2 separate regions of the Homo sapiens genome follow, and region 2 is linked to region 1. The links come from fine-mapping of genetic effects on gene expression. A gene starts in region 1. The other region holds a variant in brackets. All regions are shown on one strand. Distances are between the middles of the regions. Region 1 holds the start of RARG (retinoic acid receptor gamma). Region 2 overlaps PCBP2 (poly(rC) binding protein 2).

Evidence for each region. PIP is the estimated chance that this variant, and not a neighbour inherited with it, causes the effect.
Region 2: its variant is the best candidate, but not a certain one, in a credible set for the expression of RARG in whole blood (INTERVAL, PIP 0.89).

The regions. Positions count from the first base shown.
Region 1 is chr12:53,230,771-53,233,788 of GRCh38, forward strand. It overlaps RARG (retinoic acid receptor gamma), which reads right to left and starts at 1,439. Exons shown (of 10, transcript NM_000966.6): 1 at 1,204-1,439; 2 at 399-465. RefSeq lists silencers at 1,125-1,254, 1,575-1,624.
Region 2 is chr12:53,471,010-53,473,509 of GRCh38, forward strand. It overlaps PCBP2 (poly(rC) binding protein 2), which reads left to right. Exons shown (of 15, transcript NM_031989.5): 14 at 629-798. Among named protein-coding and RNA genes, the nearest start is that of PCBP2-OT1, 7.8 kb to the left of the region's middle. The variant T/TG (reference allele first, on the strand shown) is at 995.

The DNA.
Region 1 (3,018 bases):
GTGGGGGTGTGCCGGGGTGTGGGGGGGCGTGCCCCATGCTGCCTACTAGGCTGTAGGCCACAGTGCGTGTGTGTGTGTGTGTGTGTGTGTGTGTGTGTGTGTGTGTGTGTGTATGTCTGTCTATATGGGATACCCAAGCTCCAGGCTCCCTGCACACACTACCCCCACTCCCCTGTCTTCTCTCTACTTGCCTCAAGGATATGAGATGCTGGCTATGGTCCTTGACCCCAACTCAGCATCTGACCCTAAGGGCAGAAGCCTCAGACTTGAGGATTGGGATTCCAGCTGCCCAGGACCAGAGCCCTAAAGCGGGACAGTCATCTCAGTTTCTTGCCCTGAAGACCTCCTACTCAGGCTCCCCTGCCCCCACCACCACTAACAACCAAGCATCTTCTTACCCGCTGGCCGCCTGCAGAGACTGGCTTCTACATACTGGGTCAGGTTGAGGGAACTGGGCCGTAGCTGCTAAAGACAGAGAGGCAGCGTCAGTGGAACTCTGGGACCAGCACTCCTGGGTCCCTGTCCCGGTCTTCCTGCTCTTTCTTTGTTCCATTTGGGCTTCCCTCAAGAATACTCCAGAGGTGCCCCCCACCTTGGCTGGAGGGAGCCAAGGCTCGCACCTGGGCTGGGAACGTGTGGGAGGGAATCCAGCGCTTCAAGGAAAGTTCACAGATCCCTATCCTATGCACCAGTCCTTCGGAACTCCTGGACGCGGAGGGCCAGGCTCACTTGCCTCTGGACGTTTTCCTTGCCTTCTGATGTCCAAGCTGTCCCATTCCACTGGGGAGGGAGGAACTTGGACCAGCATGGAACATCAAATCTACCCCTCAGAGCCCGGGGGTAAGGGGGTGGTAGTCTTTCCCCGCGAGAGGAAACCCTGTCTTCTCTCACATTCCCAGCACAAAAATATAAGGAGGAATGCCCCCTGGCTGAAGACTTCCCCAAATGCTGTCCTCTGCTATGCACCAAAATGAAGGGCAGATGACCCAGCCCATCCTCAGCCTGTTAAAATCTTCCCCATTCCCTTCCCACAGCAGGACTGGCCTGGGTCGGGGCAAGAAGCCCCCCTCAAGCCCGGCGGCCAGCCTGGCCAGCCTCGGGAGGGCATTCGCCCGTGCAGCTCCTCCGCGCCCCCTCCCCCAGCCGCCTCGCCGGAGGACCCAGGCGACGGGGCGGGCGAGCCTGCTTCCCCGCCTGACTCACCTGGAGTGGGAGGGGGAAGGGAGGCGGCGGAGCCCCGAGGTCCCGGCGTCGGGCAGTCTCTTGGATGGAGCGTCGCAATGTCCGGGGCTCGCCGTACTGGGGGGCTCCTGGGGGGGCACGGCTCTAGGCTGGGACTGTCCCGGGGCCTCTCGGAGCCCGCCCGCCCACGTGACCGCCCCAAAATATCCGACACATTTTCTCCCAAACCGCACACTGACTCTGCAGGCGGGGACACGGAAAATATTTTCTTTCTTTTTCTCCCTCCCCACCCCCCCCCCAACCTCCCTCCCTGCCCAACTCCCTCCTCCCCCTCCCGCCCTCGCTCCTCCCTCCCCTGCCTGCCCCTGCCCGGCTCCCTCCTCTGTGCCCTGGGGCTGGGGGGCGGAGGGATGGGTGGGCGGGAGGGGGACTGGGCGGGGCGGCCCGGGACGCCTGGGTCTCTGCCCTTCCCATTTGCTAGGCTTCCGTGACTCCATCCTCTGGGAGGCCGGGCACGGCTGGCAGAGGAGGTCAGTGTCCTGGCCCCGTGATGCCAACCTTTTCTCTCTGGCACTTTTCTCCTTTCTGCCTTTTGGGGGGACTAGTTGAGTTGTCTGTGGCCAGGCTGTGACTCTTGCGAGGCCAGTCTCTGGCGCCTCCCCAGGGTAGGCAATGGGGCGGTACCCACTCCCTCCCAGTGCTGGATTGGCCGGGCAGGAGTATGCCAGATCTAGAATAGATGCTCCTGCCCTTACTCTTTGCTCAGCCTTCACCTGCAGATCCAAGTAGCCTCTCCCTTCCCCTAGCCCACCTCAGTCCTTTGGTCCCAGGAGCAAACTGGTTGACTAGTGGCTGTTGCTGGGGGTGCTGAGGCCAGGGCTCACAGACATCTTCCCTGTCATCTTGCCTGGAGTAAGCTCCAGGAGTTAGGGCGCCTGGGTCCCTGGCTGCCAGTTGTCCCCCACCTTTAGGCCTGGATTTGGAAGGGGAGAGGCTGGAGAGGAGGGCAGGAGGAACTGTGGCTGGGAGTGGGAGGAGCCTTGGGCTGGGTGTGAGAGAGAAAGCCCAGGCAGAGGGTGTGTGTCTGCCCTAGCCAGCACCGGCCTGCCTGCCTGCCTGCCTGGTAGATGTGCCATGAATGCTGTTGACTCCGGGTGTGTGTGTGTGTGCGTGTGTGTGTGTGTGTGTCTGTGCAAGCGCGTGCGCATGCCAGTGCCGAGAGTGAGTGTCTGTGTCTGATGGGGGCATTATCTGCTTCAACATAGACAGACTCTCAACCCTAGAGTGAGAGAACCCAGTGGTTTCACTCTGCATTCTACTGAGGACAGAGGGAGAGAAAAGAATGGGTCTGCAGTCCAAGCTCTGTGCACGGATCCCAAACACTCCCATGGGGACTGGAGTTGGGAGGGAGAAAGAGGAGAAGGGGAGAGTCTGAGCTAGGCTGATAGGCTGGACAGACATACCCAAAGTACCTTCCCCAGCAATGCTCGCAGGGTGACCAGGACCTGGGACACAGACTCCTGGGTCACGTCACATTTTCCATACTGGAATTACTTGGCTTTGTCCTTGCTCCCCCCTGGGGGCCAGGTGTCCTCCCTCCTGGGAAAGGCTGCTTTTGGTAGCCAAAGTCAGGTGAAGGAGATGGGGGAAAGAAGAGGCATGCTGTGGTTACCTCAGGGAATGGGAGATGGCAATGGGGGTGCAGACAAGCCCTCTCTTTCACTCCAGGGATAGGAAGAGCTAGGAATAGATACTCCAGGGTCCCGTCCCCAGGTGGCCTAGCTGCTGTTGACTTTGCTTGGTTACCCTGGGAGCAGCTCTCAGCAGTGTGGGAGG
Region 2 (2,500 bases), 240 kb after region 1:
ATTATGTCTCTTGGACCTAAAAGACAGTTCTGAGTTGGCTCAGAACTGGCTGTCACTCACCATGGGTGGTCAGACTGAAAAATGGGTCAAGAGTTGAGTTTTTTGATCAAAAGTGTATGAGTAAAGGGTGTAGGATGAAATTGGGCATGGCGGTATACACCTGTAATCCCAGGTTACAGGGAGCACAGAGATACAGAGGCTGAGATTCGAAAATGGCTTAAACCAAGGAGTTTGAGACTAGCCTGAGCAACATAGCGAGACCCTCGGTTTTTTTTTTTTTTTTTAAAGGGCCAGGTTCGGTGGCTTATACCTGTAATCCCAGCACTTTGGGAGGCCAAGGTGGGTGGATCACAAGGTCAAGAGATTGAGACCATCCTGGCCAACATGGTGAAACCCCGTCTCTACTAAAAATACAAAAATTGGCTGGGCATGGTGGCATGCGCCTGTAGTCCTGCTGAGGCAGGTGAATTGCTCAAATCCAGGAGGCTGAGGTTGCACAGTGAGCCAAGATCAGGCCACTGCACTCCAGCCTGGCCACAGTCGTAGGATTTGGGGTGGGGGGGTGGGATTCTTAGACCTAGCCATGCAACTCTAATTCGGTGTGCCTTGTTTTTCTTTCTCCCTTAAGTTGATTGGCTGCATAATCGGGCGTCAAGGCGCCAAAATCAATGAGATCCGTCAGATGTCTGGGGCGCAGATCAAAATTGCGAACCCAGTGGAAGGATCTACTGATAGGCAGGTTACCATCACTGGATCTGCTGCCAGCATTAGCCTGGCTCAATATCTAATCAATGTCAGGTAAGATTGCTCTACCTTTTGTCTTATTTATGCCAACACAGTAATGTGTGTGTTGGGGAGAGCTGCAGTGTATTAAATATGGGATTACATGGGCGATGGGTAAAGATGGCCAAAAGGTTTTTTTTTTTTTTTGCTAGCTCTACTTTCTTAGAGTGTAGCAGAAAAAGTAAACTGCAGTAAGTTTTCAAGGGGTTGG[T/TG]GGGGGGGGGAGCACAGATTGCCCGCATTTAACTTGATGGTTTGGTAAGAGGGAAGAGTGGTCCTTGTCTTCAGTAAGAGTCCTCTGGCTAGAGCACTCACAAAATCAAATGTGGGTCTCTCTTGTTCTACATAGCATATAGACTACTATTTCTTTCACTGATTTGATTTGGAGTCCAAAGCACCCTTAATTGTAATAAGGACATTGGAGTAATAGGACAGCAAGGCAGTTTCTGGGAGGCAGCAATTACCATTTATTCTGGAAACACCCATTTTTCTCACACTGCATGTGTGTTTTATTCAGAGCTTGTGGGAATGTGGGAAGCACAGGTATTGGAATGTTTCGGAAGTGTGAAGTGTGTTTTCTATCTCACTCCTCCCCCAATCTCATCCCTTAATGACTTCCTGAGGGTTTTATTTCCCTTATCCATAGCTAGGTAGTGTTACTACTCTCAATTTTAGGACACTGTTCACAGTCAAATGGGATCCTACAGTCATTTATATTACTTGCTTTCTCAACTCATGGGCTGAAGTCACACCCTTAATTGCTTACTAATATTTCAAAGCATTGTTAGCCTTGAGGCCCTTAGGTCTCTTTTAATAGGGAATGTTGTCTAGTTATCATTTACCTTTCTTATAAGTGTTTAATCTCTTTGTCATAAAAGTTTTACATGAGTTCCTGAATCTAGTACAGGGGAAAGGAATTCCTAAGTATGTGGTCTGTATTGTGCTTGTACTGACCATGTATATATGCTATGGTTATTTAGTGCTAGCTAAGAACATACCATTTCCCCAGTAGCAGTCTGACTTTTGCCTTAAGACTTCATATCTTGAGGTGCTACTACTCTTTGTGTAGAAAAGCTTTCCCTTTCCTAGATTTGTTTTCTTGTCCACCCACCAAGCACACTAGGTCCTTAATGTTGAGAATGAAATGGTAGTAGTAAACTTTTGCACCAAGGTTGTTTGCAAAGAGGTCTTTTTCTTTTTTAGAGATAGGGTTTCATGTTGGTCAGGCTCGTCTCCAACTCCTGACCTCAAGTGATATGCCTCCCAAAGTGCTGGGATTACAAGAATTGTTTTTCTTTCTTTTTTTTTTTTTTGAGACGGAGTCTTGCTCTGTCACCAGGCTGGAGTGCAGTGGCTCCATCTCGGCTCACTGCAACCTCTGCCTCCTGGGCTCAAGTGATTCTCCTGCCTCAGCCTCCCAAGTAGCTGGGACTTACAGGCACGTGCCACCACGTCCAGCTAATTTTTGTATTTTTAGTATAGACGGGGTTTCACCATGTTGGCAAGGATGGCCTCGATCTTTTGACCTTGTCATCCACCTGCCTCGGCCTCCCAAAGTGCTGGGATTACAGGCGTGAGCCACTATGCCCAGCTTGTTTTTCTTATTTGTAATTAGGATTTTGGAGGGCAAGAAGTTTTCAGTTTTCAGTGGCAAGAATCAGGTTTTTGAAAGCTGGAATTTGTTTTGTTCTTTCGATAGGCTTGCCCTTCATGTAATTTA